6 separate regions of the Homo sapiens genome follow, and regions 1, 3, 4, 5 and 6 are each reported to be linked to region 2. Evidence: microRNA targets listed by miRTarBase, many of them from high-throughput screens and not tested one by one. Region 2 holds a microRNA gene; each other region holds the end of a gene's coding sequence.

Region 1 (5,070 bases), not on the chromosome of region 2:
ATTTCAGACAGAAATAAGGCAGTGATTATTTTAAAGTCCCCTTTGCCAGTTGGATCTGTGTGTTTACAAAGAAATCTCATACCCATGTGTGTGCCAGTCTACGGCCCTAGCTATGATCCACATAAGCTGTGCTGTTCGCTGGTTTGGGATGAGGAGGAGATAGCAGAATTGCCAGGTGACTGGTGAGGTCTGAGAGGTGATAGTCACACTGATCCCCTCTGAGTGTGACTGGTGCTCAGGGTTGATCTTTGCCAAAACTGAACAAGGCCAAGTCTGTTGAAGCAGTTTTTACTTCATAAACAGAATTAAGGAGGCAGGGATTATCTTATCCTTTTTTTTTTTCACCTTTTAACTTCTGGTTATATTAAAACTGTCTTGGCTTATTTTCACAAATAAATGAGGGGCCACGAATTGTTGCTTCAAAAGGTCCATTCAGTGTTTGCTCTTTTAGGAGGGGGAAGGGAAGGACGCAGCTGTCTCTACTGCCTCGTGCCCTGCAGCGCCCAAGTGCTGCAGCTCCTCAGGCTGAGAACGGCCCTGCCGCGGCTCCTGCAGTTGCCGCCCCAGCAGCCACCGAGGCACCCAAGATGTCCAATGCCGATTTTGCCAAGCTGTTTCTGAGAAAGTGAACGGGACGCTGGGAGACAGGAAATGCCTTACTTCACTCTGGCCCGGCGGACCTCCCACCACCCAGCAGTGCACTGGGGATGGACAGGCCTGGTGTGCTGCGTGCTCGCAACCACAGATGGCTCCTCGGCTTTAGACAGAAAGGGGAAGGGGTTCTAAGTCAAGAGCCTTTCAGTGCTCCCTCATATTGAGGGCAGTGGCAGAAAAGTGACCACTCTGCAGGCTGGGCCCAGGATGTGGTGTCCTGAGATAGTTTTGTATCTTAAAGACTGAGGCACAGAAGCGAAACGAGAACACACTGTTTTTGAGACACAGTTGTCCAAATGTTTCTGGCCAGCTCCGGCCCCTTTTTGTATGACACTTCTCTTCCACCCTGCACAGCACATGTGCCCGTCATTCTTTTAATTTTAAAAGATGAAATGGCAGATGCTAGTAATTCACAGAATGGCCTCTTGTGGGGGTGGGTCTGAGGGAAGTCAGCTATAAAACATTTGCTGGAGTTTTGTTCAATGGGGCTGTGCATTTTTATATTATGTGTTTGTAAATGACATGTCAGCCATTGTTTCATGTTTCCTAAAAGCAGAATATTTGCAACATTTGTTTTGTATAGGAATTATTTGTGCCACCTGCTGTGGACTGTTTTCTTTGCCTAGTGACTAGTGACCTGTGTTGTCTAAACATGAGTTTCAGCCCTTTGGTTTTGTTTAATACCATGTCAAATGCAAACTTCAATTCTCCCCATTTAGCTTTATTAAACTGACGTTCTCTTCAAAACTTCTTGCTGAATGGTACTCAGATGTGCATTCACATACAGATGTGTTTTGAAGTGGGTGTACCTTGCTTTACCTAATAGATGTGTAAATAGAACTTTTGTAAGTCAAATCCCATTGTCACTTTGATTTAAATTATTCCAGCTGTGATGTGTCTTCATTTTATAGCAGTTTGACACTGGAGCTTTTGAGCTTTTTTACCTCACATCTTTTATCAAATAATATTTACTGCTTTGAAAACAGCAACAGCATTGGCCAGTTCAGTAGGGGAAGCTTGCTTTATTAAGACACTCTGGAGAAAGACGTCAGGGAATCCTTGTATATGTCGTGGGAATCAACTCCTCATTTATCTGTTGCGTAAGTTTAAGTTTTTGTGCATCAGTCGGGTTTTCTATATTTTTTTAACTTAACATTTTTTAATATAACCGATTAAAAAGTAGACAGAACAGTAAAATAAACTCCTGTGTGCCTACCATTCAGCTTCCAGCATTCCTCAACTCCCAGCCCCTCTTCCTTCATGTCTGTTTCCCCTCCACCCTCTGTTATATTGAGGCACGTTCCAGATGTCATTGTGCTCATCCAGTAATGTTGCGGCAGGTGTCTCAGGAGGACTGAAAGGCCTTCACTCCTAGAAACATTAGTGGTAATCCCTTCATGTCATCAACTGTCCACTCAAATTTCCACCTTCCTACAAATATCAGCTCTCCTCCCTGTAAATTATTGGTTGGTAAGCCTCTTAAGTCTTAAAAGGTAGGTTCCCCTCCATCTCTTTTTTATACAAAACCAACTTTTTACTAGGCTTTACTTCTGAATTAAATTCAAGCGGCGGCTATTGACAGCAGCAAGAACCTTTGCTGTCCCACGCGTTCCTCCTGCAGTGTTCTCTGTGATGCTGCTTGGAAGGCTGATGGACTGTTCAGCTGGTGTGATGATTTGGGTAGCTCAGAGCCCTCATGGTTGGGGACCTGACACATGAAGAGCCCTGAATATCACTATGGGTGAGTGTGGCCTTACTTTTTGCTGCTTCACATTAACGGTTTGGCTTTGCCTGCAGCCAGTATTCTGACCTTAATGTCACACTTGCAGATGTCAGCCCAGGCTTGGTACAGGGGCAAACCTTTTCAGGCTTGAGCAGAACCCAGTTAGGTTCCGGGTGTTGACTGTTCTAGAAATGGATTTCCAGGACTACATGAGTGGGTTTGTGTGTTTTCCCCAGAAAATCCAGAACTGATGATAAATAGAAATGTGAAAAACTACTTCAGTTACTTGACTGTTTGTTAGTAAAAAAAAATCAGTAATTCATCCTTGCCCACCTAGGTAGGCGGTTTATCCAACTTCTGGGTCTCTTGCCCATGGAAATCACCATCTTGGATCTGTTGCTCTCCCAGAACAGTATTATGAATAGGGCTAAAGGTCAGAATACCCCCACTGCCCTTATGACAGATGGGAACATCTCCCAAATAAGACAGTCTCAAGCATTCATGTAATAAAATAACTTTATTAGAATCAGGAATTTGTTAAAATAATATCCTTCACATATAGCTAAAGTGCAAATTCTCTTGCTCTGTAGTAGAAGCAAGCACATCTGTCAGACCTCCGTGGTGTGCTTATAAAACCAAGACGAGAAGAGTTTTAAGAAGTACCTCTGGCAGCATAAGAGTACGAAAACACATTTTATAAAGGTTTGAACAATTATCATTTGGAGCCATTTCATATATCGTGTATGTCTTTTCACTTATTTTTCTTAACCTTTCAAAAACTACTCTGTGCTATTTATACAACTGAAGAACTGTATAAACTACTTTAGAGCAGTGGCCTCATTACTGTCAGGAACGGAATTACCAAATCAAAGAGACAACACTGCGTATTCGCCATCACTCACACACTGACAAAGTGCAGTAGTGTTAGACATCATGGGCTCTGTCACTGGGAAAGGGACCCAGTGACTTCCACCTCTCTGACTCTAAATAGCAGCAGTCATATTGGCACCTGTACCATATGATTCAAAGAGAAGATTCTACTTCCATTGGATGACAGCTTGGAAACCCGGCCATATTACATAGAGCACTACATCATTTCACAAGTTGCGAGAAAAATAAGGCCACTCCGAGGCAATCTCTTCTGCCTCCCAGGGGGATGGGACACGGGACAGTGCAAAGACCGTGGAAGATGGCAGTAAGTAGATGAAACTCCAGGACCAAAGGGATGCAGCCTGGCCATGGCTGAAGGTTTTTGCTCCATTCAGTAGAAACTGGTGCTCTAATTCATTATCAAAAATGCTTACTTGGTGTCCACATGGCACTTGTTTTCTCAGGTTAACATCTGCCTACAGAAAACTCAGGCAGAGGGGTGAGGGCAGATGCCTACTAGCATAACACCTGGTTTGCAGCACGATACAGGTGGAATGACAAGCCCAGAGAATTTCAGACGAAAACATCTGGCCTGAGTTGCTACAAATGAAGTGTGAGAGAAACGCGGATACACAAAGAAAACCAAACTGCCCGCCCACCATGTTTCCCCCTCCAACATACAGCTCTTTATGGCTACCCCCTATTCTTAATTAGAAAAATAGTCTCAATATGAAAAAAAAAAAAAAAAAAACAGCTGCTGGCACTAAAGTTTGCAAACTATGGCTCAAAAAGTCTTCCTGCAGGTAAGTAAGGAATGTCGGCATTCATTTTCTCTTCTATGAAGTTTGCTTGGAAGTTAGTCACCACTAATCTAAACCTTGAGAAAGTGAGCTTTCAACCATTTCTCTCAGCTGCGACTTGGGTCTGACTTCCCAGTTGCAGTCACAGAACCTCTCAGCCTGTTTCAGAGAAGCACTTGGAGGAGTTATGTCAGTGGCTCTGGGCCCCGTCCCACACCTCTTGGCCGCTCCTCCACCTTAGTGCAAATTCTGCTCCAGAACCTTTGTTCTGGTCACATGGTGGCACTGTTGCCCCTAAAGCACGGCCACCAGCAAGACACAGCAGACACCATACAATACTGACTAGCTTGCTCCAAAGAAGAAAATAAATAGCTTGGTTGAATTATAAGTTATTTTAGAGACAAGGCTTCATAACTTAGTTTTTTTTTTTTTTTAAAACTAAAACATTTGGAGGTAAAGAATGTTTCTCCTTTTGCTTTAGGAAGTGACTAGGTTTCTAGAAATGCTGTTTCTTTTTTTTTTTCCTACCTCAGGACAGCCTTTGTCACTGAGGATTTCTAGGGTTAGGGCTTCACAGGAAGCGTCTCCTTGAACCCAGAGTGGTTGGGTTGGGCTTCTGGCAGTGCCACCGAGTACTCAGTTGTGGCAAAAAGCAGGGTGTCCAGGGTGGTCTCAGTACACTTGGCGATGAAGCGAATGAAAGGCCTCACGTCGCCCTCGTTGGCAGCTTCCAACACGTGGTAGTAGTCGGACCGCTGCTCCTTGCGGATGGTGATGGGCGGGTAGCCCGCCTGCATGAGGATGAGGTTCATGAGCAGACGGGAGGTCCTCCCGTTGCCATCAATGAAAGGGTGGATGTAAACGAGTTTATAATGGGCTAAGGCTGCAAACTCCACTGGGTGCAGGTTCATGGCTTCCTCGGAGTTGAGCCACTGTACAAACTCCTGCATCTGCTTTTCCACATCCTGCGGATGGGGAGGGATGTGGTGTCCGACCAGGACCTGTGTTGTCCGAAACCTGCCG
Region 2 (5,074 bases):
TTCTCTTTATGTGGAGATCCCAGATTTTGATGATGGAGAATGTTCATGATTTTCTGTCTCTATTTTCTTATCAGACCAAAGAGAACCCTGTACAGTAAGAAATATGGTGTGGACCTCATCAGATACACTCATGCAGCAAACACAGTTGTTTACAGCTCTAACAAAATAGACGGTAAGCAAGCCTTTTTAGGAAGTTAAGGTCATGGTTTCCTTTGTTAAATAGTTCATGGAATCTTTGTGACTACTTCTGCTTTGTGACTACTTTAGTTTAAGTATTTTCATATAATGTTAGTAATGTTAATTGCATTGTTTTGACTGAAGGAATGCTGGAAGCAAGCCATTGGCACTTTTGAAGGACTTGGGACTGAGTATGAAAAGTCTTCAATTCAGAGTGGGGAGTGGAAAAAGGAAACAACTAATTGTGTTTATGATTTGTACTTCCTGACACTTAAAAGAACGCTTTTAAAGCCGGGCGTAGGGGCTCGCGCCTATAATCCCAACCTTTGGGAGGCTGAGGTGGGCGGATCACTGAGGTCAGGAGTTCAAGACCAGCCTGGCCGATATGGTGAAACCTTGTCTCTACTAAAAATACAGAAGTTAGCTGGGCACAGTGGTGCACGCCTATAATCCCAGCTACACAGGAGGCTGAGGCAGGAGAATCTCTTGAACCCGGGAGGCAGAGGTTGTGGTGAGCCAAGATCACGCCATTGCACTCCAGCCTGGGCGACAGAGTGAGACTCCATCTCCAAAAAGAACACTTTTAGAACAAATAAAAGGAAAGAACACTTGATACACAGCAAGTGATAAACAACAGGACTTTTTCTTTTAAAATGATAGAGATTTGAGAAAAGTTTCACAAATGCTTGAACTATGATAGTTTAAGGGAAGTTAGAACAGTTTTGGTGTTTTCCCAACCTTAGTCACTTCTGATTCCAGGAACGTTTTTTGATCTAAAGAGTAGAGTTACTTTTAGAAATTGAACTTGTGAGTTTCTTTCTATAATAAACAATCTCTGTTTTTGCCTGCATGTCTCGAGATAAATCCTAAGTTAACAGATTGTCTTGGTAACTGAACTGTAACACTTATTTTCATGTTAGAATTCTTTAATTTTTTAATTTTGTTTATTTTCTTTTGTTTGTCTGTTTTTATTTTTTGAGACAGAGTCTCACTCTGTTGCCTAGGCTGGAGTGCAGTGGCGCGATCTCAGCTCGCTGCAACCTCCGCCTCCCGGGTTCAAGTAATTCTCCTGCCTCAGCCTCCCAGGTAGCTGGGACTACAGGTGCATGCCACCATGCCTGGCTAATTTTTTGTATTTTTAGTAGAGACAGGGTTTCACCATGTTAGCCAGGATGGGTCTTGATCTCCTGACCTTGTAAGCCACCGTGCCCGGCCTATTCTTTATTCTTTTGAGACAGAGTCCTGCTCTTGTTGCCCAGGCTGGAGTGCAATGGTGCAATCTCGGCTCACTGCAATCTCAGCCTCCTGGGTTCAAGCGATGCTCTTGCCTCAGCCTCCCAAGTAGCTGGTATTACAGGTGCCCACCAACACGCCCGGCTAATTTTTGTATTTTTAGTAGAGTTGGGACTTCACCATGTTAGTCAGGCTGGTCTCGAACTCCTGACCTCAAGTGATCTGCCTGCCTCATCCTCCCAAAGTGCTGGGATTACAGGTGTGAACCACCACGCCCGGCCAGGATTCTGTTTTTAAACTTATTTCAGTGGATTATTGATGATCATCTCACATTTTGCAGTAAGGTTTTTTTTAGGCCGGTGGCTACATAGTGGCTCATGCCTGTAATCCCAGCACTTAGGGAGGCCTAGGAGAGTGGATCACTTGAGCACAGAAGTTCGAGATTAGCCTGGGCAACTTGGGAAAACCCCGTCTCTACAAAAAATACAAAAATTAGCCAGGTGTGATGGGACGCGCCTGTAGTCCCAGCCACTTGTAAGGCTGAGGTGGGAGGATTGCTTGAGCCCTGGAGGTCTAGGGTGATCACACCACTGCACTCCAACCTGGGTGACAGAGCGAGGCTCCATCTCAAAAAAACAAAAAAGATTTTTCTAATGTCATTCCACAAGGATAGCTTATACTGCTATTTTGGCTGTGCCTATCTCAGAGCAGAATGGGCGGAAGTCCTTTTTTCCATTTTTTTTTTTTTTTAATGAGACTCTTCTGCCTGTATTGATTTTTAGTTAAGTATGTCATTTCTACTTTTCATGCCTGTATTTCAGAAGTGGTTTTCTAAGGAAGCAGTGTAGTTAATGATTTTGGAAAAGAATGTAAAACCTTAGGATCCTGAGGAAACATGTCTATGTGATCATCCGAATGACTGGTTTATTTCTTCTGTTGGGATGTTTTTCTGAGTGATTAAATGAGGATTCTCCAAATGTGGTGCAAGATGAGGCAAATGTGTGGCACTTGTAGCTTTGCTGCCAAGCCTCTGCTGTGAGGATGTTCCCTTTCCTGTCTCAAGTGCATCCTGAAGAGTTCCTCCAGCGCTCCGTTTCCTTTTGCCTGATTCCAGGCTGAGGTAGTAGTTTGTACAGTTTGAGGGTCTATGATACCACCCGGTACAGGAGATAACTGTACAGGCCACTGCCTTGCCAGGAACAGCGCGCCAGCTGCCAAGTGGGGCTGAGAGGATGGCGTCACCCTGCTCATCTCTGGGAAACCAGGTAATGGGGAGGAAGTCTTTTTCTTCTTAGGGCAGGTGAGTCATTGTTAGCAGTAGAATAACTAGAAATACTTCGTAGTTGTCATTCAAGAAGTTTGAAGATGTTTTCAAGGAAAATTGTGTAGTGTTCAAGTTATGGAATATACAAATATCCCTATTCCCCTATTCCCCCTCCCAAGTTAAATGCCCTCTTATTAGAAAGCACCCCTGTGAACCCCTGGGATGACTCGATGCTTTCAACCCCTTTATTCCTATGTTCTGTTTGCCTTCAGAATGTTCTTTCTATGGTTTTCTTTCTGCATTTTGGTACCATTTTCCCTTAGCTGTTTCTCAACAATTTTTCCTTATTCCTAGTCTTTTTAAGGGGATAATACTTTTCTATTTTGCAGTTTTATTCTTTATGGCACTTCATTTCTCTACCGCCACCATGTTTTTTGTTTGTTTACTCTTTCAGATAGAATCATTTGGTTAAGAGTGTCTTATTTTTCCACAAGCACAAATCTCTGATTGTTCCTTTCTTTAATATTGTCAAAATCTCACTGCTATTACTCATTGGTATAAGAATTTGATTTTTTTAATGTCTTAAGATCTTTTTAACCCAGATCTTGACATCACTTCTCTGACGTTTTGTTTATTTTCATTGTAATTTGTGTGTCCAATTGAAGAATGTTCAAATGAGTTGAGGGTGGGTCAACATACTGATGGAGAACTCTAGACAAAAATTGCTGCCAGGGTTCAACCTGATCTTCAGTTTAACTGCCATGGCTGCTCACCTCTTTAAGTCTGTTAGCTCAACAGCCACATATTTTTCTTTAAGGTTTGCCATTCTGTGGACACTAGACCAGTATCTAAAATTATTATGTGTGCTTTACTTGTTTTTGTTTTTTGACCAGGGTATATTTGCAGGGTGGGAGTTGCATTGTAATTATGAAGAAACCAAATTGGTAATAAAAGGTCATTTCAAACATTGCTTTCTATGCTGTCAACTTAAGAACTCTGCTTTTGAGTTAGGTGAAATCTACATACCCACTCTTCAGCTGCAGAGTAGAATTATTCACCATTATTTATTCATGCCTTGCTTGGGATATAGAATACAATGGATTATTTGACCTTGTCTTTTTAAGATGAAAATGTAAAGTAAATTTCTTTTAAATAGTATGATATCATCATACCTTGTTTGTCTTTTTACAGATACTATTCGTTACTTGTCCTTGCATGACAACAAATACATCAGATACTTTCCTGGACATAGCAAAAGGTAAGACCCACGTATTATAGAAGCAGATAGTTCTTTTATCCCTGAGGTTACCCAGAGAATAGAAGGCTAGAGAGAGCTTATTAGTGAACTGAAGCTACTTCCTCACTACTGCTTGGCATTCTTCATCTTCTCTTAAATAGTCAACTCTTGATTTACTGAGGTTATAGAGGTGCAGAGGTAGGTGTTCAGAGATACCTCAGTTAAAATATAACTAGGCCCAGTGCAGTGGCTCACACCTGTAATCCCAGCACTTTGGGAGGCCGCGGCGGGCGGATCACTTGAGGCCGGGAGTTTGAAACCAGCCAGGCCAACGTGTCAAAACCCCATCTCTACTAAAAATACAAAAATTAGCCAGGTATGGTGGTGGACACCTGCAATCCCAGCTACTCGGGAGGCTGAGGCAGGAGAATCGCTTGAACCCAGGAGGCAGAGGTTGCAATGAGCCGAGATCGCGCCACTGCACTCCAGCTTGGGCGACAGAGTGAGACTCCGTCTCAAAGATATATATGTATATATATTTTTTCTAGTTATAGGTATATCTATTTCTAGTTAGATATATATATTTCTAGTTTTATATATACATATAAAACTAGAAAAAATGTGGATTAAAGATATTCAGTGAAAACTTATGTAGTAAAAATTAGATTTGGCATTTAGGAATACCAAATCTCACATATCCCTTAATAAAGGACTGTTTGTGTTTATGAGGCCTTCCAATATATGTGGCCCCCATTTCAGTGGGCCCCTATGTAAAAATGTTCCATTTAAAGATCTTAATGAGAATGCAAAAGAAAGTCCTTTTTTTAAAATCAAGAAGTTTATCTCCTTTTTCTGTATTGTAATGCAGGTTGCTTCTCTCTGTTCTTCACCCCAATGCCCCTAGTTACTTTTTTCTCTAATTTTTCAACTTTTCTTTGAATGTTAAACACGTTTTCCCCTGGATAATATTTTAATCACTTGGGGTATTTTTTCCTGCATCCATTTGCAAATGTACAGTAACCCAGGATGGTTTCGATTGGTATGGAGCCCTGACAGGAGATGGCCTGAGAGCCTCCTGTTAGAAATTGCACTTCCAGGCCAGGCGTGGTGGCTTAATGCCTGTAATCCCAGCTCTTTGGAAGGCTGAGGAGGACAGATTGCTT
Region 3 (5,074 bases), not on the chromosome of region 2:
AAGTCTTCAGATGATGATGAAATGGATTCTTCCTTGGTCTCTCAGCAGCCTCCCGATAACCAGGAAAAGGAACGACTAAATACATCCATTCCACAAAAAAGGAAAATGAGAAATCTGTTAGTTACCATTGAGAATGATACTCCTCTAGAGGAACTCTCAAAATATGTAGACATCAGTATTATTGCCCTTACTCGAAATCGGAGGACAAGGAGATGGTACACTTGTCCACTGTGTGGGAAACAGTTTAATGAAAGTTCTTACCTCATTTCCCACCAGAGGACCCACACTGGAGAAAAACCCTATGACTGTAATCACTGTGGGAAAAGCTTCAATCATAAAACAAACCTCAATAAACATGAGCGAATTCATACAGGAGAGAAACCTTATTCCTGTTCTCAGTGTGGAAAAAACTTCCGTCAGAATTCTCATCGGAGTCGTCATGAAGGAATCCATATAAGGGAGAAGATATTTAAGTGTCCAGAATGTGGGAAAACCTTCCCAAAGAATGAGGAGTTTGTGCTTCATCTGCAGAGTCATGAGGCTGAGAGACCATATGGTTGCAAAAAATGTGGGAGAAGATTTGGTCGGCTGTCAAACTGTACCCGGCATGAGAAAACCCACTCAGCCTGTAAGACCCGAAAGCAGAAGTAATACTGGGAACCCTTTCTGGGTCTGATGGTGCTGCCTCAACCTGAGAGCTTTCATAAGTAGTTCTGAATTCCCAAGCTGCCTAAAAAGGTATAAATGTGTAAAAATCTCATTATTGCCAAAATTGGATAAATGCCCATCTTAGCTAAAACCTCAAATTGCTAGAAAATTCACAGGGAAGAAAACATTTCAAGGGCTATACCTCAGCATCTAGGCTTTTTGGACTAAGGAGCTTTCCTTTTTGAAGTTATATGATAATGTACAGGTCACAGATCCCCTTTCCCAACACTTTGAAGATGAATCTGGAGTCTGCTTACTTGGAAGGCAAAGAGTGACTTGTGTCTATTGAAAGTATATCCGTTTTCCCCCCACATGGGGATTCATACTTGAGAAATAGTGCAAAGATGCTTATCTGGAACTGTGTTCTGGTGAAAGAACCAAATTACTGGCTTGTTAGCCAACAGCTTCTGATAGCAATTCATATAACCCTCTAAGAATACCTGTTTAAGTCTTGAGTGTTGAAAGGAATTGTTTACTTTGGAATATAGGAAAACAGTTGAATGTCAGACTCTCATTTGTATGTGATCTAAATTTGCAATCAATTTCAATAATATTTACAATTTGTGATAAAACTGACTTTTACAGATTCCTTTTCACAACATAATTTAGGTGTCTACTGTTCTTATTGTATTTTGTTCTGCTGTTGATCTCTCCAGCAGCCGTCTCATGCTTCTCCCTTGCTAAAAGAAGTTTGGATTACTCAGGCAGGGCCATCCAGCCCCACCACTAGAAAAGCTCTTCAGAATCTTGTCCCTCTGTTGAGCCCAGATCTCATGTGCTACGAAGGAAACCCCAAGACCCAGAGAGGAAGGGTCAACCTGGAGGCAGGAAAAAGTTGGCTTGGATCCATGTCTCATCAATAACCTTACCATATGCTTAGGTCCCCTCTATGCTGTCATCAGACCTTTGGCAATGGGGTGGTCACTACCTCACAAGGCAAAGTGTTGTATGATTAGAAATTACGTCTCCAGTGGTTAGCTCACATTGCCTCTCAAGAGACAGGTTTCCAGGTGTCTTCATTGTAGTGGGTATTAATTGTCTTCAGCCTCTTGATATCCATACCTTCCTGTCCTCTGCCTAGAAGCAAGGCCAGCGGTGCCTTTACGGACTGATCGTGTGGTGCGATTTAGGGATTCTTCAGTTTTGCTTGCTTTAGGTTTCCAAAAGTTATACATTGGTGTTTTGATTGGAATAAAGAAATCCTATAAGCTATTTGGGAAAAATTATAGTGTATGTTTCCCATCCAGAAACATGCCTTTCTATTTATTAGAGTATTATATTCCTGTGAAAATTTTTCTAATTTTCTTCACTTGTTTTACACAATTTTGTTATTGTAGTTTTTTCCATTATATTTTTATAGTTGATTATTGCTTTTACATGGGAAAGTTATTTTTAATTATATATTTGTATAGTCATCTCACTGTTGTTAATTTTCAATAGTTTGTTGGTTTAGTTCTGTTAACTTTTGGTAAAATGACACCATCTACAAAGAATAGTTTTTGTTTCTTGCCTTCTGCCTATTGGTCTTTTTTGTTTTGTTTGTTGTTATTAACATGTAATTCTGAGGTTTCTTGTTTTGGCACAAAGCATTCTGAAAGAAGGACATTCTATGATACAGTTCAGTCCTGAATCGTAATTTAAAAACAACAAATCCTCCACAACAGAGAAAGGCCACAGAAAAACTGTCTTTACCAACATTGTATTTCAGGCCAACAGGAAGTACCCTGTAAAGCCAGCAAAGCGAACAAAACAGGCTGCCCACAACGTTATTCGCTTATTTGAAAGTCTGACCAGTGCACTAGGACTGGGATCCTGAACTGTGTTTCCAGAGTCGGCAGGCTGTTACCATGTGCAGTGGACCTGCCTGTGCACCCAGAAAAGTAGCTGCCAGGAAGTGAGTGGTGAGAGAGAGTCTCCACTCACTCTTTGGTACCCCTGCCCAGAGTCGGGTATTTTATCAGTCCTCATGCAGCCATGGCACAGTACCCGAGACAGTTAATTTTTTCTTTGAGACTGGCTCTGTTGATAAGGCTGGAGTGGGGTGATCTTGGCTCGCTGCAACCTCCCGCCTGCTAGGCTCAAGCGATCTTCCTGCCTCAACCTCTTGAGTAGCTTTTCGTTTAAGTGTAGGTGGGTGAAGCCACCACAACCCACACCATCTCATGTGTAGGGGACCTGCCCATGCATCCAGAAAAGTAGCTGCCAGGAAGTGAGTGGTGAGAGAGAGTCTCCACTCTCTCACTCTTTGGCAGCCCTGCCCAGAGTCGGGGGTTACATCAGTTCTCATGAAGCCATGGCACGGTACCTGAGACACTTTTTTCTTTAGTTGAGACTGGCTCTGTTGCTAAGGCTGGAGTGGGACGATCTTGGCTCACTGCAACCTCCACCTCCTAGGCTCAAACAATCCTCCTGCCTCAGCTTCCTGAGTAGCTTTTTGTTTTTTTAAGTGTAGGTGGGTGAAGCCACCACAACCCACACCATCTCCTGGACTGGGGAGGTGCCCACGGTCAGGGTTGCCGTCAATCAGCACCCAGTGTCCCAGAGGGCAGGACATGGGCCGCAGGGTTTCCTTCCGCAATAGTGAGGCTGGGTGGGAATGAGAGGAGCGCCCCGACCAGGACCAGGGGCCGCCCCCAAACACGAGAGCCCCTGGGAAGTTGTTGGATGAGTAAGTTCTGTTACCTAAGGAGCCTGATCACCAGTTAAGTTGAAAAAGTAAACAACAGTGAACAGTTTCCCAATATAGCGGTAGAGCGAGAGTTGGAAAATGTAAGAGACCAAAGATCCAATTCCAGTAGTAACTACAGAAAATAAGCCAGGCGCAGTGGCTCACACCTGTAATCCCAGCACTTTGGGAAGCCGAATCAGGAGGATGGCTTGAGGCCAGGAGTTCAAGACCAGCCTGGGCAACATAGTGAGACCCTGTCTACGAAAAAAAAAAAAAAAAAGATTTGGTTGAGTGCAGTGGCTCAACGCCTATAATCCCAGCACTTTGGGAGGCCAAGGCAGGTGGATCACCTGAGGTCAGGAGTTCAAGGCCAGCCTGGCCAACATGGTGAAACCCCATCTCTACTAATAATACAAAAAGTAGCCAGTTGCGGTGGCAGGCATCTGTAGTCCCAGCTACTCAGGAGGCTGAGGAAGGAGGATTGCTTGAACCCGGGAAGTGGAGTTGCAGTGAGCCGAGATTATGCCACTGCACTCTAGCCTGGGCTATAGAGTGAGATACCATTTCAAAAAACAATTATTTTTAAAATTTAAAAAACATTATCAAGACGGCATGGTGGCATGTGCGTGTAGTCCCAGCTACTTTGGAAGCTGAGGTGGGAGGATTCCTTGAATCCAGGAGTTAGAGACCAGCCTGAGCAACTTACTGAGACCACATCTTTTTTTTTTTTTTTTTTTTTTTTTTTTTTAAGAAACAGGGTCTCACTCTGTTGCGCAGACTGGAGTACAGAGCTGTGATCATAGCTCACTACAGCCCTGAACTCGTAGACTCAAGAGATCCTTCCGCCTAACTCTCCCAAGTATCTGGGACTACAGGGACATGCCACCTCACCCAGCTAATTTTTTTATTTTTATTTTTCTAGAAACGCGGTCTTGCTATGTTGTCCATGATGGCCTCAAACTCCTGGGCCCAAGTGATCCCCCTGCCTTGGCCTTCCAAAGCGCTGGGCTCATCTCTTTAAAAAAAAAAATCAGAGTAAATGGGAGGTTGACTCCAGCATGACAGTGTGAGAGTGCCTGTAGTCCCAGCTACTTGGGAGGCTGAGGCAGGAGAATCTCTTGAACCCACAGTGAGGGGAGATCCAGCCTGGGTGACAGAGCAAGACTCCATCTCAAAAAAAAAAAAAAAAGACAAGTGAATATAACTTCAAAGAAATGTGGACATCATTAAGTGCACCAAATACACACAATGGGAGTACCAGAAGAAGAGAGAAAGGAGAGGAAAAAATTTTGGAAAAATAATGGCTAAAAATTTCCCTAATTAATTAATTAATTAATTTTATTTTTTGAGACGGAGTCTCACTCTGTCGGTCAGGCTGGAGTGCAGTGACACGTTCTTGGCTCACTGCAACCTCCACCTCCCGAGTTCACGCCATTCTCCTGCTTCAGCCTCCCGAGTAGCTGGGACTACAGGCGCCCACCATCACGCCCAGCTAATTTTTTTGTATTTTTAGTGGAGATGGGGTTTCACCGTGTTAGCCAGGATGGTCTTGATCTCCTGACCTCGTGATCCACCCGCCTCGGCCTCCCAAAGTGCTGGGATTACAGGCTTGAGCCACCGCGCCCGGCCCCAAATTTATTAAAACATAATAATCTATACAGACAGGAAGCTTAGTAAACTTCAAGTAAGATAAACACA
Region 4 (5,074 bases), not on the chromosome of region 2:
TCCTTGACCATCTGATAACGCATTCTGAAGAGAGACCCTTCAGATGCCCAACAGGCAGAAGTGCTTTCAAGAAGTCAGCTCATATTAACCCCCGAAAAATTCACACTGGAGAAACAGCCCATGTGTGTAATGAATGTGGGAAGGCCTTCAGTTACCCGTCTAAGCTGAGGAAACACCAGAAGGTTCACACAGGCATAAAACCTTTTAAGTGTAGTGACTGTGGTAAAACCTTCAACCGCAAAGACGCACTTGTTCTACACCAGAGGATTCACACTGGAGAAAGGCCTTACGAGTGCAGCAAATGTGGTAAAACCTTCAGTGTTCTGTCTACCCTCATTCGGCACCGGAAAGTGCACATTGGAGAAAGGCCCTATGAGTGTACAGAATGTGGGAAGTTCTTTAAATACAATAATAGCTTCATTCTTCACCAGAGAGTTCACACTGGAGAAAGGCCTTTTGAATGCAAGCAATGTGGGAAAGGCTACGTGACCCGTTCAGGCCTCTATCAGCACTGGAAAGTCCACACTGGGGAACGGCCCTATGAATGTAGCCTGTGTGGGAAAACCTTCACTACCAGATCCTACCGCAATCGGCACCAGCAGTTCCACACTGAAGAGAGGTCTTATGAATGTACAGAGTGTGGGAAGGCCTTCAAACATAGTTCCACCCTCCTTCAGCACAAGAAAGTCCATACTCCAGAAAGGCGTCAGGAGGACAGGGCACATGGGAAGGTCGTTAGCTGCTAGCACCGTGTTCATCAGGAAAGGTCTTATTCCAGAAAGGAGGTTAAGGAGAGTGGCCGTGAGAGTGCCATCCGAAAGAAGCTAAACCTTGCACATCCCAACACCCACCCCAGGGAGAGTTCCCGTGTGTGCCTGGTGTGTGGGACGCTTTCGGGAGCCACATTGCACTCTGACTTGCCTGGGGCTGTTGGCAGTGTCACATCACTGAGTTTATCCACCGCCATCCACCTCTATCCACCCCATAAGGTCCCTACAGCAAGTGGGACAGCAGACCTTGTGCTCCTTGCTCTAAACAGTAGAGAATCGTTAATAGTGGAGCCCAAAACAGGCCTCATTCCCTACCCTTGACTGGTTTAGCTGTGGACATGACCCACCTCTGGCCGGAGGAGCTGAGCTGGTATCTGCTGGGGGCTTCCTGGGAAGGTTTACCATTTTCATGGAAATGGTTGACATTACACATGGTATTTGTCATGCCCTAGCATGGACTGTCTCATACTGCTCTGGACTATGTGGTAATAAAGGCTTTATTGTTTAAGCCGCTTAAAATTTTTTTTTTATTTTTTTTTTGAGATGGTCTTATTCTGTTGCCCAGGCTGGAATGCAGTGGTGCCATCATAGCTCACCACAGCCTTGAACTGCTGGTCTCAAGGGATCTTCCTGCTTCAGCCTCCTGAGTAGCTGGCACTACAGGTGTGCGCCATCACACCTGGCTAATTTTTTTTTTTCATTTGTGGACAGGGTCTTGCTATATTGCCCAAGCTGGTCTCGAACTCTGAGCCTCAAGCTATCCTCCTGCCTTGGCCTCCCAAAGTGCTGGGAGCCACTGTGCCTGGCCTAGTTTTTTTAGAGACAGGGTCTCACAGTCTTGCCCAGGCTGGAGTGCAGTAGTGTGAAGCTAGCTCATTGCAGACTTGAACTACTGGACTCAAGTGATCCTCCTGCTTCAGCGTATTGAATAGCTAGGATTGTACTTGTGTGGCACCACATCTGACTAATTTTAAAAATTTGTATAGAGACAGGATCTTGCTACATTGCCCAGGCTGGTCATGAACTCTTTGCCTCAAGCAGTCCTCTTGCCTCAGCCTTCCAAAGTGCTGGTATTATAGTTGTGAGCCACTGTGCCCTGCCAAGTCTCTTTTAATATTGAGGTTCTGATCCCTGTGTGTGGAGAGATTGAGAATAGAATCCGGCACTATCACCGTAAGTTGAGGGAATGGCTTTTGTGGAGGTGGTCTCTTGAGTTTTTTCTGCCTCAGTGGGGATGGCAGGATGACAGAAAATACCTCTAGTCAAGGTTGGCCTAATTTGTATTGGCCCCTGAGTCCTCCAGGGAAAGACTTGTAGCCTGGATGTCAGGCTTTTTTGTGGGTCCAGAGCTCACCTTGCGGAAGGGAATAGTTGGTGAGAGATCTTCTATATGTTTATGGACATAAAAAGTTGGGTTCCTTGTTCCCAGGGAATGTTCCAGAACTTCCAGCATTGGTCAGAAGGAGCTGTTTCCAGATTCAGCTCAAAAGTCATATTCTCCAAAATCTGGAACATGGAGGTAAGTTATAGACTGACTCTAAGACCTATAGGGGCCTGTTGGGTAGAGTAATTTGAGTAGAGTAAGTGGGCATAGAAATATTGAGTGAAGTAGTATGGAGTGAAGTGTCTGATAAACAAGAGGATTTCAGCCAGTTCTAAAGAGGCATCCACAAATGTTCCAGCAACTGAGGTTTCCTGGGGTGAGGGCACCAGAACTTCTCAGCAATTGCAGACCTGTTATTTGTGTCAAGGTCACTGTCAGCAAATAATCTACAGACTTTCTGGATTCTCATATCCTCTCTGGGCTGTTCACCTCTCATGGCCATTATCCTGAGACTGAAAGATTCTATAGTCCTGGGATGTGCCTTTTGTGACCCAGCCAGTACTCCTGGTGTCTGGATGCTGTGGCCTTTGCAGTTGTCAAGTTTTTGCTGTCATGGTGTCAGGGCTTTCCCTCTGGGGCTCAAGAGAGACACGTAGGGTAACCAAAGTATGGATCCAGATCTTGCGGTTTATGGGACCTTTTCAGAGTCTTGCTGTGTCACGCAGCCTGGAGTGTAGTGGTATGATCACGGCTCACTGCACCCTTGACTCCAGGGATTCAAGTGATCCTTCTACCTCAGCCTCCTGAGTAGCAGCGACTACAGTTACACACCACCACACTCAGCTAATTAAAGAAAAAATCGTTTTAGGCTGGGCGTGGTGGTCGATGCATGTAATCCTAGCACTTTGGGAGGCCAAGGTGGGCAGATCACTTTAGGTCAGGAGTTTGAAACCAGCCTGGCCAACATGGTGAAACTCCACCTCTACTAAAAATACAAAAAAATTGGCTGGGTGCAGTGGCTCACGCCTGTAATCCCAGCACTTTGGGAGGCCGAGGCAGGTGGATCATGAGGTCAGGAGATCGAGACCATTCTGGCTAACATGGTGAAACCCCGTCTCTACTAAAAATACAAAAAAATTAGCCCGGCATGGTGACGGGCGCCTGTAGTCCCAGCTACTTGGGAGGCTGAGGCAGGAGAATTGCTTGAACTGGGGAGGCAGAGGTTGCAGTGAGCCAAGATCTCACCACTATTCTCCAGCCTGGGTGACAAAGCAAGACTCTGTCTCAAAAAAAAAAAAAAATTTGGGAGTAGGGGGTCAGGATTGGCGGCTCATGCCTGTAATGCCAGCACTCTGGGATACTGAGGTGGGAGGATCGCTTGAGCCGAGAAGTTCATAGACCAGCCTGGGCAACATGGCAAGACCCCATCTCTTTAAATTTTTTTTTTTTTTAAGAGACAAGGTTTTGCCATGTGCCCAGGCTGATCTTGAACTCTTGGGCTCAAGTGATCTTCCAGCCTCAGACTCCCAATGTGCTGGGGTTGGTGTGACACTGTTCCTGGCTTATACCCACTTTTATTTTATTTTATTTTTTTTGAGATGGAGTCACTCTGTTGTCCAGGCTGGAGTGCAGTGGTGTGATCTCAGCACACTGCAACCTCCGCCTCCCAGGGTCAAGTGATTCTCATACCTCAGTCTCCCGAGTAGCTGGGATTATAGGCATCGGCCAGCATGCCCGGCTAATTTGTATTTTTAGTAGAGACGGGGTTTCACCATGCTGGCCAGGCTGGTCTCGAACTCCTGACCTTGTGATCTGCCCACCTCAGCCTTTCAAAGTGCTGGGATTACCGGCGTGAGCCACCGCACCCAGCCTATATACCCACTTTTAAAGACATACGAGATGCTAAATGTTATTCAGAATGGGCTAGAAAATGGGTGGTAACTTCCAGCTGTTGCCATGCTAAGGGGCAGTAACTTCCGAGTGTTGCCAAGGCAGTGGCAAACTGCCATGGCAATGGCGGGCCTGTCTTACGGGGAAGTGCTTTCAGCGCCTTTTCCTGATTTCAGCGTCTTCAACCTGCTCTGGAGTAGAGTCCCATCTGCCTCCTACCTCAGCTTCACAAAAATCCCTTGAAGGAGGAATTATCTTCATTTTCCATTGCTCCCCCACTTCCCCAGACTGGCTGCTGGATAGGATATTGATCACCTTGCTGCCTATAGAAATCTCAGTGCTGCTTTTTTAGGGGGAACGGAAGCCAATCCACATTGTAATTTTTTTTTCTTTTGAGACGGAGTCTCCCCGTCACCCAGGCTGGAGTGCAGTGGTGCAGTCTTGGCTCCCAGGTTCAAGTGATTCTCCTGCCTCAGCCTCCTGAGTAGCTGGGATTAACAGGTTCGCCGCACCATGCCCGGCTAATTTTTGTATTTTTAGTAGAGACAGCGTTTCACCATGTTGGTCGGGCTGGTCTCGAACCCCTGACCTCGTGATCCGCCCACCTCGGCCTCCCAAAGTGCTGTGATTACAGGCGTGAGCCACCGTGCCCAGCCATGTAATTTTAAAAATGTAATTTATAAGAGCATAAAATTATGAAATACTTAGAAATAAATTTGACAAAATTATGCAAGACTTGTACACTGAAAACTACAAAATGTTGCTGAGAGACTGATTGAAGAATACCTAAGTAAATGAGGACATTTACCATGTTCATGAACTGGAAGTCTCAATATTAGTATGTTAATCCTCCCAAAGTTGATTTGCAGATTCAATGCAGTCCCAATAAAAATGTCACTAGGTTTTGTTGTTGTTGTTTTTGACTCGCTCTGTAACCCAGGCTGGAGTGCAGTGGTGCAATCTTTTCTCACTGCAACCTCCGCGTCCCGGGTTCAAGCGATTCGCCTGCCTCAGCCCCCCAAGTAGCTGGGACTACAGGTGTGTGCCACCACGCCTGGCTAATTTTTGTATTTTTAGTAGAGACAGGGTT
Region 5 (5,074 bases), not on the chromosome of region 2:
TGCAGGCCCTCCTGAACCTGGCCGAGCGGCTGGGAGATGCCAAGCCCCGGGGTCTCACCAAAGCAGACATAGAGCAGCTCCCGTCGTACCGCTTTAACCCGGACAGCCATCAGTCGGAGCAGACGCTGTGAGTACCCTGCCCCACCTCCCACCCCTCTGAACACAGCTGGCTGCCGTGGGACGCCCCTCTCAGGGGAGTCACACTCCACTGAGCCTTCCCATGGCCCTCAGCGTGGAGGTGACGCTCCGCGCCCCTCCACAGGTGTGTGGTCTGCTTCAGTGACTTCGAGGCGCGGCAGCTGCTCCGAGTCCTCCCCTGCAACCATGAGTTCCACACCAAGTGTGTTGACAAGTGGTTGAAGGTAACACTGCCCAGGTCTGCTCCTGGGTATTCCTCATGCAGTGACGGGGGGATGGGCTGGCCTGGGCTGTTTCCCTCCTTGTCCTTGTCATCATCTCGGAAGTTCTGGCTCCAGCGGACCAAGTCCCCCCAGGTGGCTGCACAGATGTGGTGGGTTGGGGCTGGTGAGAGCAACGCCTGACGTGCATGTTCCCACAGGCCAACCGGACGTGTCCCATCTGCCGGGCCGACGCCTCCGAGGTGCCCAGGGAGGCTGAGTGAGGCCACGCAGCCGCCTGCCCGGGAGAACCCTGCCTGAAGCTCTGGAAACTTGTGGGTGGGGCCCAGGGAGGATGGGGAGGGAGTGGCCCAGGCCTGCCCCTTCGCTCCTGCCTGCATTTCCAGAGCTGGTGCCAGGGTCAGCCCAGCGAGGAGTCCCTGCAATAAGCCCCTGCATTTGCCAAGCTCCAAAGACTCCCTCCCTAGTCTGCCTGCCTGCCCGCCCGCCACGGAGCTGCCTGAGTGTCCCTGATCGGGTCTCCCTCCTGTGCACCCTCAGGTCCCTCCTTTTCCTGCTGGCACTGAGTGCCAGGGGTCCGCTCCCTCAGTGGGGCCGGTGGAGATCCTTGGCCCCAGGATGGGCAGACAGAGCACCATCCTGGGTCAGAAGGTCTCATGCTCTGAAATGGCGTGCCCTCTGCCCAGGTGGCACTGCCAGGTGCGTAGACAGACGGTGTCACGAGCCATTTCCTGAGCCCCAGGGCTGAATCCCCCCTCCTTGACCCCGAACAGTGAACTCAGGCAGCTGGCTCTGTGTTGGCTGCTGTGAGGGCTGAGTCTGGTTCCCTAGGGGACCCTCATCCCAGGAACAACATTCCAGCCCCACCCTCAGGCTGGAGGGCGTCCCAGCCTAATCCCGAGCTGGGGCACACGTATCCTGAGGGGCTTGGGCCATACGGGGAGAGGGAGCCCTGTGTTCCCGGTGGTTGTCCCTCCCAGGGATGCAGCCAGACCCGTGCCCAATCTCCTCTCCCTCTGTTGTTTTGCATGAACGTGAGGAGCAGCAGTTTTTGTTCATTCATTTGGCCCAAAATCACGTGTAGGATTTGGGGATGTGGATATTTAAGACAATTTCTTTTTTCTTTTGGTTTAATAGGGGCGGGTATAGGGACCAACTGGGACCGAGTGCCCAGGGGGCCGAGCACGGTCATGCTGGCCGGCCTGCATGCATGCGTGTGCCGGGCTGGGCTGGGCGGCCGGCGGTCGTGGGGCAGGGTTGGGGGTCTGTGCTCAGCTGATAACTGCCATGCACTGTACTGCACACGTCCCTAGAGCCTACCGGGACCCGACGCTTTTCAGGGCATTTCTCCCTCCAGCCAGGGCCCAACTCCCACCTGCCTGGGCGAATCTCCTCCAAGGAAGTCCCAGGAGGATGGGGACCAGGAAGGCTGTGGACCCCCATCTCCAGGGGGCCTTCCCAGCCTGATCCCTGTCCTCCAAGTTCTGGAGGAGGCCGCTGTAGGGTCTGGCTGAGCTTCCCACCCACTTTCCCTGGTCCCAATCCTTTCTTGTCCTATACCCAGCTGGGGTTGCTGCCCTGAACGAACTGCGTGTGGGGCCGGCACATCCTAGCAGGCAGCCCCTGGCGCCTGCTGCCTCAGGGATGCTCCAACCACCCTCGTTCTCCTCGCAGTGGCCCTGGCTCCCACCTCCCGCCCCAGCCTGCCGTGGGGCCCGTCAGCCTGGTCCCACCCCCATGGAGAACCCAAAGTCTTACTGTATATAACTCCAGGTGACGTTTCTATATTTATAGCAGTGTTGAAAACCCACGTGTTTTACACAGAACCACCCTCTCCAACCCCTCCCTTCCCGACCCCAACAAAACGTTTTCAAACCCCTTACAGTTCCTGGGGCAGGCGGAAACAGGCTCACAGATTGTGTGTCGGCTGCAGCAGTGATTCCAACAAGCAGCTATTGGGGGGGAAACACAGCATTTAAAAAGATCATCATTAAAAAACAAGATTTATACAACAATTACTTAGGATGTTTGTGATCTGCCGACCTTGCTATAGATGCCATGTTACCAATGATTTCCTGTGGTGGGGGCTTGCCATTGTTTACTCTCTTATTTACCAACTTCTGGCCTAGGCATGACAGTGGGCACCTTCCCCCAGCCCTGGCTGGGCCCAGCGCCTGTGTTCTGTGTTAGAAAGGTTTTATATATATATAAAATTACATATATATGTAGAAATATATGTAATTTTGGGGGCCCTGTTCCTTGCACATTTTACAGTTACCTCATTTTTCCCATGTATGTATTTGAGAAAATGCTAATATATAGAGAAAAAAATGGTTCTTAAAGCTTAAATGTGTGGTTTTTTCCATTCCATGGGATTCACATTGGTTTGTAGCATTTAACATAACTAGTATGTTGTATTATATATATGTGTATACTGATTGAAATTTTTAACAGATTTGTACTTTTTTTAAAATGAAAGTTGCTAGTTCTGCTTGACCAAGTAGTGCAATCATTATTTTTTTTAATATTGTTGCTGATTTCAGAGGGATATTCACTAATAAATGTATGATGTATACCAACGACCGCCCACGCTGCCTTTGGCTGCCCGTGTCTTTTTGGTGGGAGGTGGGATGGGGATGAGGCTTAACACCTGTAATCCCAGCACTTTGGGAGGCCGAGGCTGGTGGATCACTTAAGGTGAGGTGTTCGATACCAGCCTGCCCAACATGGTGAAACCCCTTCTCTACTAAAAACACAGAAAAATTAGGCCGGGCGTAGTGGCTCATGCATGTAATCCCAGCCGGTGGCTCATGCCTGTAATCCCAGCACTTTGGGAGGCTGAGGTGGGCGGATCATGAGGTCAGGAGATTGAGACCGTTCTGGCTAACACGGTGAAACCTTGTCTCTACTAAAAATACAAAAAAAAATTAGCCGGGCGTGGTGGCGGGCACCTGTAGTCCCAGCTACTCGGGAGGTTGAGGCAGGAGAATGGCGTGAACCTGGGAGGCGGAGCTTGCAGTGAGCCAAGATCGTGCCGCTGCACTCCAGCCTGGGTGACAGAGCAAGACTCCGTCTAAAAAAAAAAAAATTAGCCAGGTATGGTGGCACAAGCCTGTAGTCCCAGCTACTCGGGAGGCTGAGGTAGGAGAATTGCTTGAATCCAGGAGGTGGAGGTTGCAGTGAGCCAAGATTGCACCACTGCACTCCAGCCTAGGTGACAGCGGACTGTGTCTCAAAAAATAAAAATGAATCTCAAGGTAGGTTCTTCTGTCCTGACTGGATCAGGGGGCTCAGGCCTGTCATGAGGAAATAAGGTCTCCCTCATTTCACAACTTGTTTTGTTTTTCCAATAGGAACAAGTCTCACTATGCTGCCCAGGCTGGTCTCGAACTCTTGGGCTCAAGCAGTCCTCCCACCTTGGCCTCCCAAAGTGCTGGGATTGCAGGTGTGAGCCACCGCGTCCAGCCTGCAACCTTGCTTTTCTCTGCGCGGCAGCGCTTGGTAGCCCTTGCTCAGTCTCCTCTAATTTAGCATCACCTGAGGCGTGTGCCACCATGGCCTGCTAAGTTTTTGTATTTTTTTGTAGAGACGGGGTCTCATGTTGTTTCCCAGGCTAGTCTTGAACTCCTGAACTTAAGTGATCTGCCTGCCTCAGCCTTCCAAAGTGCTGGGATTACCTGCGTGAGCCACCGCGCCCAGCTTAAAACACAATGATAACATTTCTAATGGCTCAAAGAAAAATGAAATACTTAGGACTAAATCTAACAAAACGTGCAAGACTTGCATGCTGAAAACTACAAAACTGTAATGAAAGAAATCAGACCTACATAAATGGAAACAAACCGTGTACTTGGATTGGAATATTCAACATAGTAAAGGTGGCATTTCTTCGCAGATCAATCTGTAGGTTTAATGCAATTTCTATCAAAATCTCAGCAAGGGTGGTTGTTTGTTTTTTAAGATGCAGACATGCCTAGGCTGGGCACCGTGGCTCGAGCCTGTAATGCCAACACTTTGGTTTGTTGTTGTTGTTCTTGTTTGTTTGTTTGAGATGGACTCTCGCTCTGTCGCCCAGGCTGTAGGGCAATGGCGCGATCTCAGCTCACTGCAACCTCCGCCACCCGGGTTCAAGTGAGTCTCCTGCCTCAGCCCGAGTAGCTGGGACTACAGGCACGCACCACTACGCCCAGCTAATTTTTGTTTGTTTGTTGTTTTTTTGTTTTTTTTTTGAGACGGAGTCTGGCTCTGTCACCAGGCCGGAGTGCAGTGGCGTGATCTCAGCTCACTGCAACCTCCGCCTCCTGGGTTCAAGTGATTCTTGTGCCTCAGCCTCCCAAGTAGCTGGGATTACAGGCACACGCCACCACGCCCAGCTAATTTTTGTATTTTTAGTAGAGGCGGGTTTTCACCATGTTGGCCAGGATGGTCTTGATCTCCTGACCTCAGGTGATCCGCCCACCTTGGCCTCCCAAAGTGCTGGGATTACAGGCGTGAGCCACCGCACCCAGCCAATTTTTTGTGTTTTTAGTAGAGAGAGGGTTTCACCATGTTGGTCAGGCTGCTCTCGAACTCCTAACCTCAAGTGATCCACCTGCCTCGGCCTCCCAAAGTGCTGGGATTACAGGTGTGAGCCACCATGCCTGGCTCTGTTTTTGTGGTTTTTTTTTTTTTTTTTCCTGAGACAGATTCTCGCTCTGTCACCCAGGCTGGAGTGC
Region 6 (5,074 bases), not on the chromosome of region 2:
ATATATATAATTAGTATAATTAGTATATCAGTATTACTATTAAATTTAAATCCTATGTCTTTGTATGATTTTTAAGTAGCGGATAAAAGATTTCCATTAAAAGAATATGCACTATAAGAGATTGTTCAAAGCAATTAGGTCATTAAAATAATACCTTAGAAGCAAGATGCTCCTCACTATATATATATATTTAATTTTTTAATTGAAATATTTTATCCACTACTTAAAAATTGTACAAAGACATAGGATTTAAATTTAATAGTAATACTAAGTAATTTATTACAAATTAGCTAATAACTCTTATATTTGTTTGCCACTTTTTGATTTTCCCTGGTGCTTGAATATATCTCTCTTGTTTGATCTTTACTAACAGAGAACGAGCAATCCAAGAGATGCGTCGACATGGTCTTGCTACACCACCCCTTAGTTCCACTCTGAGGTCTCCTTCACATTCTCCTGAACATAGAAATGTGTAATTATCAGAAAGGTATGTATGTAACACCAAGGACAGGCAAAACTAATCTGTGGTTGTAAAAATTCAGAAAGTAGTTTTCTGCATCAGGAAAGGGGAGATTGCCTGGTAAGGCGTTCAGGAGAACTTCCTGGAGTAATGGAAAAGTTCTATATCTTGGTGATAGTAGTTATGTGGGTATATACAATTGTAAAAATTCATAAAACTGACCATTTACAGTGTATGCTTTTTTTTTTTTTTAAGAGATGGGGTCTCGGCCAGACACAGTGGCCCACACCTGTTATTCCAGCACTTTGGGGAGGCTGAGGCTGGAGGATCACCTAAGGCTAGGAGTTTGAGACAAGCCTGGGCAACACAGTGAGACCTCCACCTCTACAAAAAATACAAAAATTAGCCAGGCATGGTGGCACACACCTGTAGTCCCAGGTACCAGCTGCTGGGGAGGTGGGGGAGGATACTGAGGCAGGGGGATGGCTTGAGCCCGGAAGGTTGAGGCTGCAGTGAACTGTGATTGCACTATTACAGTCCAGTATGCATGACAAAGCAAGCAGCTATCTCCAAAAAAACAAAGAGTTCTCACTATCTTGCCTGGGCTGGCCTCAAACTCCTGGGCTCAAGCAGTCCTCCCACCTCAGCCTCTTGAGTAGCTGGGACTACAGGCTGGTCCATGCATTTTATCGTATATAAATTATACCTGAATTTAAAAAGAGAAGACATCTACAGCATAACGTTAAATGACAATATGAGCTATCACAGGATATTATTTGATGAAGGGCTAAATTCAGGCTACAAATAATAGGTAGTAAAAATGTAGACAAAGCATAGAAACAGTAGTACACATGGTACAGTAGTAACCTGGCAGGAAGGGCAGGCTGTGGGGGAATAATGAGGGAGAGAGGTTTGGAAGGTAGAGTGGGATATATAGAGTATTATATTGAATGTGAAGCTAAATTAGAGATTGTGGACTTTATTCTGTAAGTCAAAAGGAACGTGAACGTCAGTCCTCCTGTGTATAGGATGGGTACAAGGGAAGGGTCAAGATGAAATAACTGTTTCTGGTAGATTAATTTCACAACTGTGTTTGAACCATATTGGAAAGGATAGGAACTAGAGGTAGAGAGACCAGTAAGTGGTATGAAATGAGCAGTATAATAGTTCAGGATTAGTATAATAACATTGAAAGCTAGGACATAATTTTTAAAGTAAACCATGAAATATATACAGAAAGGTACCATATCATAGATACATAGTTCAATGAATTTTTTCAATGAACAAATTGAACACATCCAGGTAACCTGCATGAAAATCAAAAAAAAAAAAAAATAGGCCAGGCACGGTGGCTCACACCTCTGTAATCCCAGCACTTTGGGAGGCCGAGGCGGGTGGATCACTTGAGGTCAGGAGTTCAAGACCAGCCTGGCCAACATGGTGAAACCCCGTCTCTACTAAAAACAGAAAAATTAGCTGGGCATGGTGGCACGCACCTGTAGTCTTAGCTACTTGGGATGCGGAGGCAGGAGAATTGCTTGAACCCAGGAGGCAGAAGTGGCAGTGAGCCCAGATCGCGCCACTGCACTCCAGCTTGGGTGACAGAGTGAGACTCCATCCAAAAAAATAAAATATAAAGCCTGGCACAGGAGACTGAGGTTGCAGGACTACTTGAGCCCAGTTCAAATCCAGTCTGGACAACAAAGCAAAACCCCATCTCAAAAAAACAAAACAAAAACAAAACAAAACTAACTTCTCTTTGGCGTCAGTCATAAGCCCTGGTCTAAAAGTAACTGTCCTGACTGTTAAAAGTGTAGATTTCTTTTTGCTTACTTTTAGACATTTTATAAATGAAATCATGTTCCTGGCTTCTTTTTCTCAACAGTACATTTGTGAGATCCATCCATATTGTTGTGTGTACTTGTAGATTGTTCACTCTTGTTGCTGTGTATGGAATGCCATTATGGAAACTTACTACAATCCAATTACTCCTCCTTCTGTTCATAAGCACTTGGCAGTTTCCAGTTTGGGCTATTACAAATAGTGCTATGGTTATACTTAGAAGTGAAATTGATGGATCACTGGATATGTGTATGTTCAAGCTCTAGGAGATATGGTAAACTGTTTTCCAAAGTAGTTGTAAAGTGCCAGGATGCATTTGACTGAGGAAGGATCAAAGGGATGTGCTGATTCACTGGAGATGGGAATGAGTGGGAAAGAAACATGAGTCAGACCCAGGCTTTGACAGGTAGTGACTGTGGAAAATGCATACTCATTGACAGAAATAGTTATGCCAGTCTTGTTTAAATTGATACATTTCTTTGCCTCTTTTGATAGAAATATATAGAAGATAATTAAACATTTCCTCTGACTCAGAATCCTCATTGTGAACATTAGTTATGTGCTATTCTTTGACGTACTGATGCCCTCAAGTTTGTAGGGCCTTGGTTTAAATGATTCCTGATTGCTCTGCTTCTGCTTTTGTGTTTGATTAGGGCATTTATTTTTCTCTTTCACTTTGAGGACCACTTCTCAGTGTTCACTGTAGTCACTGTGTCCTTCTTGAATTGCTGTGTTATTTTCATGTGATCAGATGGTGGTTCACCTTCTTGTTACAAAGGATTGTAAGAATGTGACACAGACATTTTCTCATGTTTGATTCACAGCTGCAGTTTAGATCAGGGGTTGGTTGGTAAACTAGGATCTGCAAGCCAAATCCATACCACTGCCTATTAGTGTAAATTAAGCTTTATTGGAGCACAGCCACACCCATTTGTTAACAGATTGTCTAAGACTGCTTTACTACAGTGGCAGAGTTGAGTAGTTTTGACAGACCCCATGTCCCACAAATCTAAAATATTTACTGCCTGTCTCTTGACATCATGTAGCTCTGGAAAACTCAACTGTAGACCTGTAAGAAAATAAGAGTGAAAGGCAAATAATTCCTTGGTTTTATGAAAATAGGCTTGACCTTGTAGAGTCTCTGAAAGTATTGGGGATTCTCAGGGATCCCCAGACTGCACTTTAAGAACTACTGATATGGAACATAGATTCCTGCAGTCCCTGAAACTGTGATGAATTAGACACTGCATTTTTGTTTTGTTTTGTTTTGTTTTTAGAGCCAGGGTCTCACTCTGTCACCCAGGCTGGAAGGATGTGGCATGGTCATAGCTCACTGAAACCTCAAACTCTCCTGAGCTCAAGCAATCCTCCCGCCTCAGCCTCCTGAGTAGCTGGGACTACAGGCACGCCACCACACCCATCACCACTATCTAATTCTAAGATTTTTTTATCTCCCCAAACAGAAATTCTGTACCCATTAAACAATCACTCTCCAATCCCCAGACCTTAACCTTCCCAGCTCCTAGTAACTTCAGATCTACTTTTCTGGTCTCTATGAATTTGCCTATTTTACATTTTCATATAAGTGAAATCATACATGTGTTCTTTTGTATCTGGCTTATTTCACTTAGAATAATATTTTCCAGGTTCATCCATATTGTAGGATATACCACATTTAAAAAATCCTTTTGTCAGTTGAAGACACCTGGGTTGTTTCTATCATATGGTTATTGTGAGTAATGCTGCTCTGAGCATTGGTGTACAAGTATCTGTTTTAGTCCTTGTTTTCAAATCTTTTAGTATATACCTGAGACTAGAATTGGTGGGTCATATGGTAATTCTGTTAAACTTTTTGAGGGACTGCCAAACTGTTTTCCACGTGCTGCACCATTTTATATTTCCACCAGCAATGCATGAGGGTTCCTGTTCTCCACATCGTCACCAACACTTGTTATTTTCCACTTTTTAATTACAATAATTCTAGTACATGCAGATTAGAAAGCTTTTATAATCATCAACAAACTCATAATTTATAACTTTGTAATAATTTACAATTAATTTTTGAGGTATATTAATGAGATTGTTATTTACTAATCCATTTCCCCTCGTATTTTCTAAATATTGTCACCAAAACTAATTTTAAGGGATTTCCCCAAGCACTCAGAAATGAATTGCTCAAGGAAAAAAAAAAAAATGAATTGCTCAACTATAAAATGGCATCTCAGATTAGTGTCTCTCTGATAGTTAAATAGACAATCCAACTTTTATTATTTGTTTTTTGACTATCATATCTAATGCATGCTATTTGAGATAGGAAAAGCCTATAAAAGTGTTTTTCCGATTCTCATACACCACTCAGCATACCACTTCAGACACTGTATTCTCCAGCAGACACCAATTGATCTCAATTTTAACATTTAACTCAATTCTGACATTATCTGCCTGGAGATAGTGTCAGATCCCACAGATCAAGAGCCCAATCCCACAAATCCCTTCCCCTCGACTTCAGATGCCAATAGCAAGTCCCAGGTTGTGATCTGTGCTTCTGACTGAAGAGGTTTCCACAGCCCCCTCATCACATTCTATTAATTTGCTAGAGCAGCTCACAGAACTCAGGGAAACATTTTTACATTTACCTGCTTATTGAAAAGGTTATTATAAAGGATACAGATTAACAGGCAAGTGGAAGGGATGCATAGGGCAAATTATCAGGAAAGCAGCTCAAAGCTTCTGTGCCCTCTCAAGGCGCGCCACCCTGTAAGCATCGCCAAG

Evidence for each region. The annotated mature microRNA hsa-let-7g-5p reads UGAGGUAGUAGUUUGUACAGUU and lies in region 2 at 2,527-2,548, shown strand. An mRNA with a match to its seed (bases 2 to 7 or 8) in the 3' UTR can be bound and repressed. Matches are read on the target gene's strand: a 7mer-m8 pairs with bases 2 to 8, a 7mer-A1 pairs with bases 2 to 7 and ends in A, and an 8mer does both.
Region 1: the mRNA of SART3 is a reported target of hsa-let-7g-5p. Seed matches in the 3' UTR shown: 7mer-A1 at 1,596-1,602.
Region 3: the mRNA of ZNF200 is a reported target of hsa-let-7g-5p. Seed matches in the 3' UTR shown: 7mer-A1 at 848-854 and 8mer at 1,633-1,640.
Region 4: miRTarBase lists ZNF584 as a target of hsa-let-7g-5p. The part of its 3' UTR that is shown has no 7-base or 8-base seed match.
Region 5: miRTarBase lists RNF44 as a target of hsa-let-7g-5p. Seed matches in the 3' UTR shown: 7mer-A1 at 2,635-2,641.
Region 6: the mRNA of CEP135 is a reported target of hsa-let-7g-5p. The part of its 3' UTR that is shown has no 7-base or 8-base seed match.

What each region holds. Positions count from the first base shown.
Region 1 is chr12:108,519,016-108,524,085 of GRCh38, reverse strand. SART3 (spliceosome associated factor 3, U4/U6 recycling protein) reads left to right here. Exons shown (of 19, transcript NM_014706.4): 19 at 452-1,872. The coding sequence ends at 629. It overlaps FICD (FIC domain protein adenylyltransferase), which reads right to left. Exons shown (of 3, transcript NM_007076.3): 3 at 2,876-5,070. The coding sequence ends at 4,611. Among named protein-coding and RNA genes, the nearest start is that of FICD, 6.3 kb to the right of the region's middle.
Region 2 is chr3:52,265,810-52,270,883 of GRCh38, reverse strand. It overlaps MIRLET7G (microRNA let-7g), which reads left to right and starts at 2,523; the gene lies at 2,523-2,606. It overlaps WDR82 (WD repeat domain 82), which reads left to right. Exons shown (of 9, transcript NM_025222.4): 2 at 75-172; 3 at 3,866-3,932.
Region 3 is chr16:3,219,469-3,224,542 of GRCh38, reverse strand. ZNF200 (zinc finger protein 200) reads left to right here. Exons shown (of 5, transcript NM_198088.3): 5 at 1-2,218. The coding sequence ends at 651. Among named protein-coding and RNA genes, the nearest start is that of ZNF200, 13 kb to the left of the region's middle.
Region 4 is chr19:58,417,039-58,422,112 of GRCh38, forward strand. ZNF584 (zinc finger protein 584) reads left to right here. Exons shown (of 4, transcript NM_173548.3): 4 at 1-1,289. The coding sequence ends at 746. It also overlaps a transcript of ZNF324B not described here. Among named protein-coding and RNA genes, the nearest start is that of ZNF584, 11 kb to the left of the region's middle.
Region 5 is chr5:176,524,576-176,529,649 of GRCh38, reverse strand. RNF44 (ring finger protein 44) reads left to right here. Exons shown (of 11, transcript NM_014901.5): 9 at 6-127; 10 at 263-362; 11 at 560-2,938. The coding sequence ends at 622. Among named protein-coding and RNA genes, the nearest start is that of RNF44, 10 kb to the left of the region's middle.
Region 6 is chr4:56,024,128-56,029,201 of GRCh38, forward strand. It overlaps CEP135 (centrosomal protein 135), which reads left to right. Exons shown (of 26, transcript NM_025009.5): 25 at 374-487. The coding sequence ends at 476. Among named protein-coding and RNA genes, the nearest start is that of CRACD, 22 kb to the right of the region's middle.